2 separate regions of the Homo sapiens genome follow, and region 1 is linked to region 2. Evidence: fine-mapped expression QTL. Tissue or cell type: whole blood. Region 2 holds a variant in brackets; the other region holds the start of a gene. All regions are shown on one strand. Distances are from middle to middle.

Region 1 (8,107 bases), 120 kb before region 2:
TAAGAAGGAGGTAAATGATGATAACACACAGACACAAACATGGGAACAATAGACACTGGGGCCTACTCTAGGGTGGAGGTTGGGAGGAGGGAAGAGAATCAGAAAAAATGACTATTGAGTAATAGGCTTAGTACCTGGGTGATGAATTAATAAGTATAACAAACCCCTGTGGCACAAGTTTACCTGTTTACAAACCTACATATATACTCCAAACCCAAAATAAAAGTTAAAAAAAAACCCAAAAGAATTTTCTGAATGGTTAAAAAAAGTAACATACGCACAACGTAAAACTTACCATTTTAACCATTTTCATACAGTTTAGTGGCATTATGTACGTGTACATCGTTGTGGAACCATCACTACCATCCATCTCTAGAACTTTCTTCCATCTTGCAAAATAGAGTTATGTTGAGTAATTCATATGCAATGCCCAGGCATACAGCTCTGATATGCTAGCTCCTAAGATATCTCTGGCACTTAACTAGCTGTGAGAACTTGGGCAACTCATTTGACCATTTGGTCATCCACAGAATGGGGTTAATATTTACCTCACAGAACTGGCAAAAGGACAAAATAAGATAATATTTGATAAAGCATTTTAAAAACTGGAAAACATTTTATGGTTGCTACTTATAATCATTATTATTATTAACATAGAAAATGTGAAGATCTTTTATAGAAAGCTGAGACCATTTATTGTGATCATTTTATAAATATTGTTATACATTTAGGTTACCATCTATTCAGATTTATCATTACACATATCTTTTACTTTTTTATTGATTGATTATATCTAGAATGGAATACTAGATATAATCTACTAGAATGGAAGATCCATGAAAGCAATGATTTTTTAAAATTATTTTACCCATTGCTCTATTTCAGAGCCGAGAAGAATATAAGGCATATCTATCTCTTGAATAATGAAAGAATAAATTACTTTATGCAAGAGTAAATATGTTATTAGTGCTTTAAAAAATTCATTCATAATGATAGTTTACATATAAGTCTTTAGGTTTTCCCAGTGCAAAATTAATACATGTGAATTCCCAAATGAAATATATTTTAAATATGAGGAAATTTCCCAGACTAGTTCAGAGTTAAAAGGAAGCAAGTTTAGGAGTAAACAGGAATTTTAAAAATATATGCAAGTTTTCAAAATATGTTCTGATTTTAAAGTTTTGGGCTATTATCAGTACAATAAAAGATGAGTTCAATTGGGTTAATATAATATAACCAAGGAAATACTTAGAGTATCATTCTCTTTTCTAAACAAAACAGGTTGTAGTAGACAATACTGTTTATCAATACCTTTTTATTTTATTTTATTTTATTTTATTTTTTGAGACAGAGTCTCGCTCTGTCACCCAGGCTGGAATGCAGTGGTGCGATCTCGGCTCACTGCAACCTCCGCCTTCCAGGTTCAAGTGATTCTCCTGCCCCAGCCTCCAGAGTACCTGGGACTATAGGCGTGTCTCACCATGCCCGGCTAATTTTTGTATTTTTAGTAGAGACGGGGTTTCGCCATGTTGGCCAGGCTGGTCTTGAACTCCTGACCTCAGGTGATCCACCCACTTCAGCCTCTCAAAGTGCTGGGATTACAGGCATGAGCCACCGTGCCCAGCCTTCCCCTACATTCTGAATGGAAAGTTAAAATGACAATTTATATCTGTAAAAATTTTGTAATAAAGTATTTTGATGGGAGATAAAGCCATATGCAATCACATGGTTTTAAAAGTGGAGAGTAGTATGTTACAAACATGATATTGAAGACTTCTAGGTTCCTTTATATCAACCCTGATTCTAATATGAGAAGAAACTAAGCCGCTTCTGAGATACATGGGAATAATCCTTCTGAGCTGTTATCACTGCCTAAGACTTTTTATCTTTTTTAGATTTTGCCTTCCATAAAAATGTCTTCTCCAATAATCTTTCCAGTTGTACTATCTTTTCTTTGAATTGTTACTTCTTTTTGGTCGTTGGTACACTGAGTTCTCTAGGGTGATTTTTTGCACCTAAGGGTAAGAATTCAAAATTGTGATGCAGGTATTTACAGTAGAACTCTGAATCCTTGTCTTTCACATTTTTGGAATAATTACTGGGGCTTTACTAGAGTACCTTGCTAAGGTGTGTGTGGCCTTTTTTTTTTTTTTAATTAAAAAACAACGTAAGTGGGAGTGGAATGGGGTAAGGGAGGTGAATCATTCATCAAATGAAAATTTATTTAAATACCGTTGTCTGTGATAAAGGAATAACCATTTCAGAATAACACTGGAAGAATTAATTTAAATGGATGCACTTCCCAATATTGTTACTGTTTTCTTTGGTATTTCATTAACATTGTGAGTGGGGAGGTGCTGGGGTCCATGGTAAAAAAATAAGTAAGTGAAAGGCAAACAACTTTGCTTTCTAGTGGATTTCCCTTATTACCTAATGAGGGCAGCAGCTTACAAGTTGATTGTGTTCAATTCAACAAATTTGTTTTAGTACCTAAGTGCCTGCTATATGTACAGAGTGAAGAAAGAAATAACCCTACCTTTAAGAGAGTTTACGGTCTGGTTGTGTTGATTCACCTTCTGAGAAAAAATGTTATTTGCTTTCCTCAATTTTTTTCCTATCAAAAGTAAACATAGGTTCAAACATTCAAACCTATGAAGGCCTAAAAGGAAGAATCATCTTCAGTTTGCTGTGACGATTTCACTGAGTTTTATTTTAAAATATTCATTTAAAAATACATACAAACATATAAACCCATCAGGCCAGGTTCTAGTGATCTGAGATATAAGCATGATACAAACTACTTGGCTGCCGTGTATTTTTGTTTTATTTTAATCCAGGTGATCAGGTCTGTATGGGGAAAAAGCCCTGGGGCTTTTTCAAACAGGAAGGGCCCTCCTCCCTCTGAATGCCCGCAGTGCCGCCCTGTGCACTTTACAGAACAAGGAGAAAGTCAGTTTCTTCAAACTGCTTTTCTAAAGAGCGTTTCCATTCGTGGTCCTGGTGATTCCACCATCTTTTCTTCACAACAGTGACGGTTCTGGAATTTCTACACAGCCTGAGGGGCTGACGGGGTAGACCAGGTGACTGGGAAGGGGCAGTGGCACATGACAAAAATTTGAGGAAACGTCCAGTTTCCGTTTCAGGGAATGCGCATAGGGGAAAACGCAAGTCCCCACGCCATCACGGGGCCCTCCACCGCGGCCGGACGACCCCTCTCTCGGGAGTGACTGGGGCAGGGCACCTGGCCTCAGGTTCGAGCGGAGCCTGCACTGAGAGGCAGGAGTTGGATGAACCACTTGTAGGGTCTGCTCCCAGCTACCCAAAGCGAAAGGGTGGGCGAAAAAGCATTTGCAAAAGAATACATTAACCTCACAAGGAACGACCCCCACCACCCATCCTCCAGCGCCCAAGGTTTCCCACGAAGAGGTCGCCGTCGCCCTTCTCCAAGTTGGGTAGAACCTATAAGGCATCACCAACTGCATCTCAAACCAACCAAGCAAGTGACGCTCCAAAACCTCCCTAAATACCCTCTCTCCCCAGCATTCCGAACGCAACATCAAGGGCGAAAAGAGGCTGCACAAATCACGTAGAAAATTAGACCGCCTCTTTCCATGGCGATAATCGAATTAGCCTCAAATTAAACGTGAAATTGGCCCTCTCCGGCTGTGGAGACAAAGCCCCTATTGTCCTGCTCGGGTAGCGGCAGCAGCAGTGCCCACCCCGCCCCGGCCAGCCTGGTCGGTCCCCGCCGCTGGGAGGATGAGGTCCGGGCTGGACCCGGGAAGAGCCTCAGCTGGAGAGGACGTGGACGCGCCCGAGGCTCGGCTCCCTGGGCGGCTGCGGGGCTCCGGGCAGGAGGAGAGGGCGGGCGAAGCAGAGGGAGCGGGCGGGAGTGGGGAGGGAGGAGTGCGGAGGGCGGAGGGCGTGCGGGAGGGATCCCGGGAGTGCGCTTGTGTGTGTGTGCGCGCGCGCCCGCCCCGCGCGCTCCTCTCCCCGCCCCTCGCCCCCTCCCTGCGAGCGCCCTCCTCTCCTCCTCCCCCCGCCCCCCGCGCTCCCGCCCAGCCCCCGGAATCAGTGCCGCTGTTGCCGTGCAGGCTGCGGATTCCTCCAGTCCCTCCCTCGGCCGCCTCTCCTCCCGGAGCGAGCGCGCAGCCCTGCGCAGCAGCGCCCACTGGTCCCGTCCTGTGAGCCCCGGCCCCAGCCGCGGACAGACCCGCGGAGTCGCCTCCCGGCCCACCCGCCCGGCCGCCGAGGAGCGGGAGGAGGACGGGACCCCGGCGCCCCCACCCCATCCCCGGGAGGTAGGTAGGGGGCCCGAGGCAGGGAGATGCCAACTCACTGGGGCTGCCTCCCGGGTGGGCTCCGCGGCGGCGGACGGGCGGGAGGAGGGGCGCGGGCCCAGGGCCGGAGGACGCCGCTGCCCGCCTGCCCTGCGCCCGGGGAGCCGCGTGGGGGCAGGGAGGCTGCAAAGCCCGGGCGGGGGCGGCGCGGGGAGCCCGGGTCGCGGGTGCTCATTGGTACTCGGATGATGCGGGACGAGGGGCGGCAGGCTCTGCGGTGAGGCGGCAGCAGACCCGCCGTGCGCACCGCTGCCGTCCGGCCCCAGCCCCGGCGCGGCGCGGCGATTCCTCCTCCCTGCCTCCGCCGGCGCCTCCCTGCAGCCGGGCGCGGCGGCCCCTGACGCGGAGGCCCCTGGCGCGGAGGTGGGTGCGGAGCGGACAGCGGACAGCCGGAGGGTCTATTTTCAGGTGCCCTCTCTGTGGCCCCGCGGGTGGGGAGCGGGGGCGGCGGTGACAGGGCCGGGCTCTGCGCGTAGCGGTGCAGGGGATGCGGCCAGGCGTGGTCCCGGCTGCGCCGCGCTGCAGCTGAGCCGGAGGCGGCGGCCCCGCGCCCCCACCTCCGCCCCATCCCTGCGCTTGCTACCCTCGTGCGCCCGCCCCCCCCCCGCCCTTTCTGCCGTCCCCACTCTCCCAGGGCTGGGCGTGAGCCGCCTCCGGGCGCCGAGCCGCCGCTGCGCCCGCCCTTCAGCTCCTGCCACCCTCTCTTCAACAGGTTTGTCTCAGCGCAGGGACCCTCCGGGCCTGCTTTGGGTAGGTGGGCTGGCTCGTCATCACCCCCCACACCACGCCCACGGCCCTCTTTTAGGGGGCGCCTTCTCTTTGTTTTTGTGATAGGAAAGGTGCCAACTGCTGCCATCAGATGAGGAGGGGGTGGGGATCAGAACGCAAACCTCTGTCCATTATTTTTCCAATCGAAAGCCAGGCCAGATAGTAAGTGAGGACAGGGTGCGTGTGGGGGTGCTTCGGCGGAGCAGAAAATTGAATTCGGTGGGGTTTATTTGGGCGGGGATGTGCTTTTTTGGCAAGATGGATGGCTCACGGTGCCCTCGCCGTGATGCAGCACAATGCAGCAGTATCGCAGCTTCCTTGGTTCTCGCTGGCGGGGCTTGGCACGGCCGCTCGGCGCCTGCGGCCCCCGCCCGGCCCCACCCAGGCCCGGGGCTGCCCTTGGCCGAGGCCTGGAGCTGCTGCTACCTTGTCCTGCAGCTTCTGCTGGATGTGGCGTCAGGAGGACCAGGTCAGCTAGGTGTGAGCAGGGGAGAGTCTTTTCTTTTGGGATGATCCCTCCTGCACCTCTTCTTGGGCTGCGCTCTGCCGGAGGGGCGCCCTGCATCACCAGTGCAGGCAGAGGGGAGCCGGCCTGTGGTTGCGGATCGGAATCTGATCTGCGACCAGGGGACCTGAGCCATAGGGAGGGGCTGCAGGAAGGACTGGGCCCAGTGGTGTGCGGAGGCAATGTTGCAGTGTGGGGAGTCGCAGCGTTTTTCTGTGGATCGTCCATAATCTGTAACCACAACCCAGCTATGCATTAATTTTTTCTACGTGAAAAGTTGGTGTTTATTAATTGGACCTTCACAACTGTGACATTACAGTACCTCGTCTGTCTTTGGTTAATACCAAGTATGCATTTTTTCTGTAGGAAACCATTTTTAAATGAAATGATTAATGCATTTTGGGTTTTATGTCACTAAGACATTTATAAGTATATTAAAATTCAGTAGGTTGTTTTAAAAGGAATTTATATGTTTTTTAATGGATAGTAAATGATTCCTTTAGCTTGTATTTTGTTTTCATCGTTTGCTTTTTCTAAGTCAAGTACAGTTGCATTATTTGGATGCTTTATTAAGGATTATTAGGTGTATGAGTGTCATGATGGGGGCTAAATTGGTATTCAGATTTCTATTGATTGAGGTAGCCAAGTTAAGTGTCCGGGCGTAATTAATGGGATTATGACAGTAACACTGCGTTTGTGTTTGTTTATATGTATTTTTTGTATACATATTTTTCACAGCTGTGACTGGGGAGAGGGTGGAGAAGGGCAGACCACCAAGGCCTCTTGACTGGCATCTAGTCAGAAGGAGATGGTTCCCAGTGTTCTCATGTTTAGTCTCGGCCAGGACACAGGGAATTTCCCTTCTAAATGCCATCTCTATAATTCATTATTCAGTGTGGGATGGCAAATGGGATATATTTCAAATGTCAACCCAGGCTTTCCTAAAATGTTTAGGTGAAAAAGGAAATTTCAATATGCTAGTTGGAAGGGAAGGTCAGTGTTTACAAGCCAAGGGCGTGCCTGCTTGTATTTTTAAATATTTCTAATGAATCCAAGTTAGTTGCTTTTGATTTCATGTGGCTCTGCAGAATAGAACTGCATGTACATTGTGTGGTGTATGTGCGTTATTTTGAGTTTCTCTAATAGCCATTAAAATATGAGACTTTTTGTGCTGGTTGTGTAAAATCGTGTTGCGTACAGATTTTTATGAATGTTGTTCCCATGGATCATCCAAACGTTTTGGATTTACTTTGTTGTAAGAAATATCCTGTGTTGATGTCACAGGAGGTTTAGCTGTTCTGACTTACACAGCAGGTGCAGAATTCTGTTGGGTTAAGCTCTTTGTAACTCTGTCATTACTGGAGTGACCAAAACCTTCATCTGAGAGGAGAAGTATTGGGCAGTGAAGGAACTGCTGTCACTAGGTCGTCTCCCACAGTTGAGGTTTTCTGTGAAGAACTTCTCTTGGGCAAGACTAGTAACAACTATCTGTGATGTTGCAGAGCAAATGAGAAGACCTCCCTCTACTTGTGACACATCCTGAGCAGAGGCTTGGCATTGGCAGAGTTTCCTGGAAGGGTTTGTAGAGTGGTTGCTTTGTCTTGATGTTTGAATGTATGACTTTACATGTGGAAGTACTATTTTGACGTGGAAGGATTTTACTACTGCTAACATAGACATGATTAGTGGAAATCATTCAGTGTGGATTTTGTCGAAATAATTTTAAGCTTTTCTTTTTAATAGCATATTCTTATAGAACATTTTAAAGCCTAATTTTTTTTACGTGCAATGACATGATGCTCCTTTAATTATGTTGCATCGTAACTAGTATCTTCATTATAATTGGGCTTTATTTAATGGCAGCCGTAGTTTCTTTCACTACATTATTGGAAATGCAAACCATTCTTCCAGAAGGAAGGGGCTAACTACCCCTGTTAGAAGAGTGAACTTTGTAGGTCTGTGGAAGTGAGTAAAGCATCTCATGGGTTTTTCTTGTAAATTTTCAGTCTTTGCTTTTTCTCAGGGCATCTTTTCTTTGCAAAAGACCTAGTTTAGTACTCTGATTTTTCCGGTAGCACTTGTAATTATATTTAAATTTTTATTGTGTGGGAATAACATCATCTATTTTTTTCTACTCAGTGGTTAAAGGAAATTACACCAATTAGATATACCTGTGTTTCTATTTTTAAACATCTCTGGAGAAGGCATTTTCATAATGTCCTTTGCTATCATAGTGAGGTTCACGGACCTTCAACATTAGAATCGCCTGGAAGCTTGTTGCAAATGCAGATTCTTAGGCCCCACTCTGAACTCAGCCAATCGGAATCAACATTTTAACAAGACCTTTAAGTGAGTTGTATGCACATTAAATGAAGAAACTCTATTCTGTTCCTTCAGCAAAGGGACCTCAATATCAAAAGTTTCCTTCTTGAATTTTCCTTTCTTTTGCTGAAGTATCAGCACATTTTTTTCCTTGATGGTGGTGACAAAAGTG
Region 2 (8,107 bases):
TGCAATGACAGAGAGATTACACACTATCTGCAAACAACTGCCAAGCAGATGAAATCCTGGCTGTGGGAAGTCTGCGGTGAAGAGTGGTGGGGGTGGTCAGGAGAGCAGTGGAAGGGAAGTGGCTCAGAACATTGTAGTGGTGGTTTGGCGTGCCTGTCAAGGGCTGTGGGACGTTTTCTCTCTCATTTCAGAAACAAGGGTGGTGGGAAACACATGGGCCGTGGATTTGCATAAACCAACAGTCAAATCCTAGCTCTACCAGTGACTTCACTGAGCCTCATTTTCTTCAGGGGGAAAGAATAAATAGCCCTTGGGGTGATTGTAAAGCCTAATTAGGTATGTTATAATTGTATTAAGAGGATGACGAGTTCACCGTTTGCCAGGGAGTTTTCCGGTTTTAGTGCCAAACATTCCACATCCGGGGAATCTTCCTCAGTCCCAGGCACACTGGGTGGTGAGTCCCCCAGTTATATATGAAGATACCTATTACTGTTCCCTAATTGTATGTACACACACACACACACACACACACACACATACACACACACACACACACACACACATATCTATAAATAAAGGGCTTCTGGAAGCTGGCTGCCTATTACTGTGTACCTGATACTCAGTGGGTATTTGTGAACTCCCAGGAGGATAGTGTGTTAGTGTGTTTGCGTGTATCTCTGTATTCCTTCTTAGGGATGGCATACAAATAAATGTTTCATGAATAAAGGGATGAATGAGTAGGTAAAGTAATATAAGCAGTAATGCATATGTTTTAAAGTGATTTAGCTGGTTTTCCTTCCAGGGGCCTCTTCCCTGAGAAAAGAGCCACTTAATAAATGATGTCTTGAATGAAAGAATACATCATGAAAATAATTTTGTCCATGATGTGGCTAAACTAAAACTCCAGGAAGGGCTTAGGCTGGGCCTATCTACTTTTTTTGATAAAATGAAGTTTAATATGACCCTAGTGACAACCTCCCCTCATCCCCTTAAAGCTCAAATTTAGGGAACTCTTGTGGTTGGACTCTCACATACTCCCTAGGACTCTGCTGGGTGCTGGGGAATTTACTAAACTTTGGTGAGGAGAAGAGGAGAGGAGAGGGAAGCCACGGTACTAAGGTACTTAGGGAGACAGAAACAGTTCCCCTAGAAATTAGACATCACATTGTCTTTTTCCCCCCTTTCTTTTGAATGAGATGGGGCAAGAATATTTGGACCAGGATAAAGTTTTAAGATGCATTTACACTAATGTAATCAGGTTACATAGCAAAAAAATGTTAAAAATGTACCCTGGGAAATTGAAATCTATCCATTCTTCTAGGTGTGGCAGCTTATTCAGATTTTTATGTTGTGTGACCATAAAACGAACACAGCTTTTCTAACCGCGAGTGTCTTTGTTTACAGAGATAACAGTGTGAGTAATGCTTTGCTAGAAGCCAGGCAGTTAAATCACACTCTGAGCAAATAGAGGCTGGGCTTCAGAAACTTAGATAGCACACGAATGTGCAAACTTGGTCTTTTAAACTGAAGACATATCTGAAAGAAAACTGCTTTTGGCCCATGAACTACTTTCCCAGCCCTTTGTGCCTCCCAATCTCTGCCCCCCTTTACAAAAAATCTTTGTTTTTCCTCTACAAATATACATATATGATTTCAATTTGGAGGTGGGATGTTATTTTTTTCACTTGAAACACAAGGAAGCAATTTTTAAAAGTCATACTCGTTCAGCAGTGGGCTTGACTGTAGCCAGTTTGACTAGGAGTTCTTGGCTACAGAACCATACACTTGCAGTCTTTATCAGGGTAGTAAATTCAGATGGGTTTTTGGAAAGGGAGAGGGCTGGAGTTGAGGGAAGGGCACTAGAGCAGTGTGACCCACGGCCCAGGAGCAGTGTGAGTGGGAAGGGGCTCTAGAAGCTGACTGCCTTTGTGTTTGCCACAGCGTGCTGGGAATCAGATGAGAAGGCGGGCCCAGACCCCACCAGATACTCATCTCAGCCATTGTTGTCATTAAATGACTCTGAAATGACCTTTCTTACCTCAGTTTCCTGTGAGCTCATAGTTGTCTGCAGATGTGAATTATGTCATTGATCTTTGCTCCCTCTTTGCTTATAAGGAGTAGCTGTTCTGCTCCATGTTTCTGGAAGAGGAAAGTGATGCACAGGTCACTTAGTAAAGCGGTCCCCAGCCTTTTTGGCACCAGGGACTGGTTTTGTAGAAGACAATTTTTCCACAGATAGGGTGGAGGAAATGGGGAGTTGGTTTCGTGATGAAACTCTTCCACCTCAGATCATCAGGCATTAGATTCTTATTAAGGAGTGGTAACCTAGATCCTTTGCATGCACAGTTCATGATAGGGTTTGGCTCCTGTGAGAATGCTGCTGCTGATCTGACAGGAGGCAGAGCTCAGGCAGTAATGCTTCCCATCCACCACTCACCTCCTGCTGTGTGGCCGGTTCCTAATAGGTCACGGGCCAGGACCAATACCGGTCTGTGACCTGGGGGTTGGGGACCCCTGACTCGGTGATTCAGCAGTTGATTTGGGATCCTCTGTCTTTGTTCCTCCTCCCTCAGCGGGAATTCACAGTGTAACTCATTTGCTAAGGTTTTCTGCGTTAGAAACAGAACTCCTTTTGGACTACTAGGAGACATGGTCATTAGAATAATTATGATTCTTAGTATGACTCAACCCCTTTTTAATATTCAGCCTTATGGAGGGCCTCTGCCTGCGGCTCTTTGCTCAGGCACTAGGGCCACAGGGGTGTAATTTCTATCTCTGCCCTCAGGAAGCTCACAAACAAGTCAAGAGACAGGAAAACGGATCCTGTTTTTCTAATGGGATTTGAATGGATGTATTTATGGGAGGGGGGTGCTTTGTACACCTGCAAAACAGAACACCAGCCCTCCCTTCTCCTCTGGGGTTGCTGTGAGAATCAGTTAGAATAATGTGCATGAACCCCGTATGGAAAATACAAACTCATAATTAAATCTAAGAAATTTTTGTGGGGGGACACAAATGTTGGGGTTGTCTTTGTTCTCAGGTCCCCTCAACTGGTCTAATGAAGGAAACAGACACCTTTCCAGTAACAATAGCCAACATTTATTGGACACTTATGTACCAGACTGTGCTATTTATGACATACATTATCTAATTTCACAATCAGAAGAATGCTAGAGATAGGGTCAGGCGTTATCTCTGTTTACAGATGAGGAAAGCAAGGCTTGGAGAGAATGCCATACAGTTATTAGTGTGGCGGAGCCGGCCTTTGCACCTGGCTGTTGACCACGCCCTAGCATTAAACCATTACCTCACACTGCTTCTCCGAGATAGTTATCTTCTTGGGATCATTTAGGTGTGGCAGGATCTGGAGGGAGCAGTTGGACCCAAGTCTCCTAGCAGCAGCCTACACGTTTCTTGAGTCTGTTTTGAAACAACTTCCTTAGCCCTAGCTGCGCAGAAAGCATCCTCCCCTCAGAGTGATGATTTTTATCATGTGGTTTCCTTCCTCCTGCCTTTGGAGGTCAGGTCTTCTCACCCAGGGTCAGAAAGCCCATCAGTTGCTGATAAGCTGCAGCACTTGAGTCACAGGGTGCAGGCCTGTGTTTAGAATGGGTCATGCTCATGTCAGGCACGTGGGGAATCAGTGATCCCATGAGAGCTCGATCAGTGCAGTCTGGTTTGGAATTGCAGGTCACACCCTTCCACCACTTTGCTCATGTGTCTACTGATGCCTGTGATGTAGTTAGTTAAACCACTGACTTCTTTCTCCTGCATCAAACATGACTTTTTGAAAAAGTGTGTGGGGGCTTTCCAGCATGAACCAGGCATAAACCAGGTACCTTCATGAACATATTATTTATCCCTTCAGTCACCCTGTGTGCTAGGTGGTATCATAACTGCTTTGTGGATTGAGGAACCTGAGGACCAGAAAGATGACTTGAGGTGGCAGCCTCATTTAGCCAGCAAGTAAGAAAATGGGTGATGGTGAACTTCTGCAGCAAGAGGGGGCCGTTTTCAACATTTCTGTGAATTCAAGGCGTGTGCTTCGTCTAAATAGGTGGAGACACGTAGGAAGGCATAGTGTATACATCC[A/G]TCAGCACATGGGTAGATTTTGAGGTTTTTTTTGTTTTGTTTTAAATCCAGAGCGTTGTGTATTTGATCATTCTTGGAGATTCAGCCACATTCACAGGTGTTAAGTGTCACACCTAACCTAGCAATACAATACACAGCTGAAAGAAACCAGTCAGGTTTTCCCAATATCAATTTCTTTTTATTTTCTTTTCTGCAACTCCAGAGGATTCAATAATGTCAATTTCTGATAAAGCTTTTGCTATTGATGAGTAAATTCTTCCATTAAAAAGATAACAGTCTGCTAATTTGCTTATCATTGATGTTGCAAGAGCGTAACATTGGAGGGATGAGTAATGCATCTGCATATCTCGAAGGACAAAACTGACGTCCACCCACTTGTGGATACGGTATTTGGTAAAAGTAACTAAGGTAAAATTGCCTAAGGGCATTTAACTTGAGCCATAGCTTAAATTCAGGTGATATTGAGCGTTGACATATCAGGATTCTTTTGTACACAGAGACGTGGATGTAGACCCACTGGTAGCAATTGCAAAGGCTCTGGATTTTTAGCTGCTGGATGAAATACCTGCAGCTGAACATCTGTTATGATGCAATTAAGCAGTGACTCAGTGGCGTGAAGGCTCAGTTTCGATGTATCGGGAACTCCTTTGAATCTGTCCACAAACTTCTCAACCAAAAGGAGAGGAGAAATGTGTACAGACATTTGAGAGGCTGGGTCTCAACATGCCTCTGCCTAGGCAGTCATGGGAACCTGGTCTTTTCTCCTGAGACAGGAATTAACCTGTAGTACGAGAAACATGGTTGGATGAGTGGTTAAAGCAGGGCCCAGACTTTGGTACAGTTTAGGTTATGGTAGCAGGGATAGGGAGAGAGGTGGATGATGGTAATGGTCTGTGTTTTTTTCCTTTTGTCACTCAGATCCAGCTTTTTTTTTTTTTTTTTGAGAGACAGTCTGGCTGTGTCTCCCAGGCTGGAGTGCAATGGTGCGATCTCGGCTCACTGCAACCTCTGCCTCCTGGGTTCAAGCGTTTCTCCTGCCTCAGCCTCCCCAGTAGCTGGGATTACGGGTGCCTGCCACCACTCCCGGCTAATGTTTGTATTTTAGTAGAGACAGGGTTTTACCATGTTGGCCAGGCTAGTCTTAAACTCCTAACCTCAGGTGATCCACCCACCTCGGCCTCCCAAAGTGTTGGGATTACAGGTGTGAGCCACCGCGCCCGGCCTTCAGCTCTTCTTTCTGCTATTGCTTTGGCCTAATTAATAACTTAAAGCTGGAACGTTGATGTCAGGTATGTGTAGGTCCAGGAAAACAGCTGTTGGCTCTGTTACTTCAATTTTTTTTTTACTCTATACTTTGAAGAAGTAGTACTTTCTAGAACTTGTACTCAAAACTCAACTGACAAATCCTGGAAGGCCGTTGCTTATACGCTCTAGTTGATGCGCCACAGCTGCCTGGCTGTGAGAATGGAGTAGCATGTACCTCTTAATTAGCCAAGAATAAGTGCCGTGGAAGAAGGCAGGATGACTTTTTAGAACCCATTTTTAGCTTGAAGATCACTGAGGGAGCCATCAAATCCATCCACCTGTTCAATCAATATTCAGCCAGCAAGTGGGTGTCAAGGTGAGCAGCTTACAGTGCTGAGCACACTGGAAACACAGGTGTGTAAGGGACAGCCACGGTCTCAAATTACATTCTGAAAGGGAATACTAGGTAAGTGATCCCAAACATGCAAATATCATTCCTTGGTCCTGGGATGTGGGGGAAGCATTTTGGAGGAATTGACATTGATTGCAAGTTTTTAAATATGACCTGGATTAGATTATGAGATGATGGGTGCTTGGGGGTAGGGGTGTACAGAGGGAGTCATGAAACCATGGAGGATGTTGGGGAATGGCTAGAATTCTACTTGGGACATCATGCAAGTTTTTTTTCCCCTTCCATTTCATTTGTTAATGCTTATTATTAGTTGGGGGTTTTGCCTCCTTTTTGTTAGCCAACAGCCAGCTAATCTTGGCACAGGTCCCGGGAATCAGGTGCTGCTTAGCAGCTGATGTTGGTTAAATGACCTTGGACAAGTGACTTGCATTTCAGTTCTCTAACCTGTTAGGGTTGTAGATTGTCTGATACAGATTTGAAGGCCCCTGCAAATAAATGCATGGCCGTTTACTCTGGTCACTTTCATTTTACCGAATGTGCTCCCCCAAGGCTCTTCTGGGTAGATGCCCACTGCCAAAACATTAAGCATTTTTGGCTTCTCATGCTTTGAGCTCACAAAATCAGTCCTGTGGGAAACCTAACAAGCTACAAAGGAGAGGGAAAGCAAAAGAAAAGGTATATGGATTCTCATGCAAAGAGAGAAGGAAAGTAGGTCCCTACCTAAAGTCTAGCCCTGTATTGGTGGTGGTACTGATAATGGTAATAGCCACCAAAACTTCTTGATACTCCCCTTGTGCAGGCATTGTCCTAAGTACTTTGCAGTATTGATTCATATGCTCCTCATAGCGTCCTTGTGTGATGTGTTATTTCCATTTTGAAGATGAGGAAACTGAGGCACAAAGGAAGCTGTGCCCAAGGACACTTAACTAGTAAATGGAGCCAGGATTCCAACCCACGCAGTGCGCTTTGGGACTCAATTTTTAACCATCTTGCTGTGCTGCCTGTTGAGCATTTTTCACCTGGTGCTTTTGTAGATCCCACATTAGGATTTTGTTAGGACCCTGGGCAACCTTGATTTAGTGAAAGCAGTTGTTGAGAGGTAGAAATTCCTGATCCTTTTTTCAATCTTAAAGGATTTGCTGAGACTCTCACTCTTCATTGGTGATGGTAACAAGGAGCAGCATGGTGAATGCCATGTAAAATTCAAGCCTTGCCTTATCTTGGAGGACTTTATTCCCTTTTCTTTGATGGTACTTTGGAGATTCCAGACTATAAAGGACTCAGCTGACAGTACAGACTCTCTTGATCTGTATTTTCCCAGTATATGAAATTATTTGTAATGTACCCGTGAGAACCTGGAATAAACTGTACTGGCACTGAAGTAGAATCTTGGATTTAAAAGTACAGTGTTCACTGCTGCATCGTTGAGCATTTGCTACACAGAGAATAACCTTGGAGCAATGTTCAAAGGTGATGGCATTACCCAGAAACATGGAGTTAGGCCAGGAAACCACATCTGAAGTTCAGATTATTGGAGATTGCTGATTTTTCTTGACTTTAAATATTTTCGACTGGTTGAGTGTTTGTTGGTGTTTTTGGGCTAAGTGTTAGCCTTTTGTTCTGTGATGTCCCTGTGTGAATAAAATGGATAATCCCTGTTTCCGGTTAGCTGCTGCTGCTGCTGCTGCTGCCAAGTATAAGTGAAGACTTCCAGCTGCGATTTGCATTGTGTTTTCAGGCCACCTTTTGAGTTTCCCCATAGCAGATATAAAAACTGTTTCTAAGAGTTCATCCTTACGTGTTCAGCCTTACTTGTATCCTAAAACCACAAACTTGATTTTGTTCCCATTCATTATGATCTATATTTGGCATCAGTGAGGCAAGTTATTTATATTTATTATTTATACCCTGCCCACTTCCAGAAATGATTTAATTTGGCCTAGGCAAGTGTCTTCTGATGGGGTGTGTGTGTGTGTGTGTGTGTGTGTGTGATGATAATTCTGATGTGTGTGTGTATGATGCTACTTCTGCCACTTCAAGAGTCCAGAATCATAAGATTCCTAATAGGATTGTTGGGTTGGTGAATGCTGGGTTTGTTCTCTTCTATGCCCTCTCTGTCCAGGAGAAATCTGAGTATCTTTCTTAGGAATGCCTAACACTGCTAGACTGAAAGGTGCCATGTCACCATTTTTCCCAAGAAATTTTCTTTTGAGGGTGCTATAGAGAAGCCCTCTGGTATGAATGTATTAGGCTGGTGCAAAAGTAATTGTGGCTTTTGCAATTAAAAGTAATGACAAAACTACAATTACTTCTGCACCAACCTAATATATATTATATATTCCCATTTTGTTCTTTTCA

What was found. PIP is the estimated chance that this variant, and not a neighbour inherited with it, causes the effect.
Region 1: SPTBN1 starts here. The variant in region 2 is fine-mapped to the expression of SPTBN1 in whole blood (TOPMed, PIP above 0.99).

What each region holds. Positions count from the first base shown.
Region 1 is chr2:54,452,218-54,460,324 of GRCh38, forward strand. It overlaps SPTBN1 (spectrin beta, non-erythrocytic 1), which reads left to right and starts at 4,110. Exons shown (of 36, transcript NM_003128.3): 1 at 4,110-4,301.
Region 2 is chr2:54,571,039-54,579,145 of GRCh38, forward strand. The region is part of intron 2 of SPTBN1 (spectrin beta, non-erythrocytic 1); the gene reads left to right. Among named protein-coding and RNA genes, the nearest start is that of SPTBN1-AS1, 16 kb to the left of the region's middle. RefSeq lists silencers at 3,460-3,619, 3,690-3,749. The variant A/G (reference allele first, on the strand shown) is at 4,093.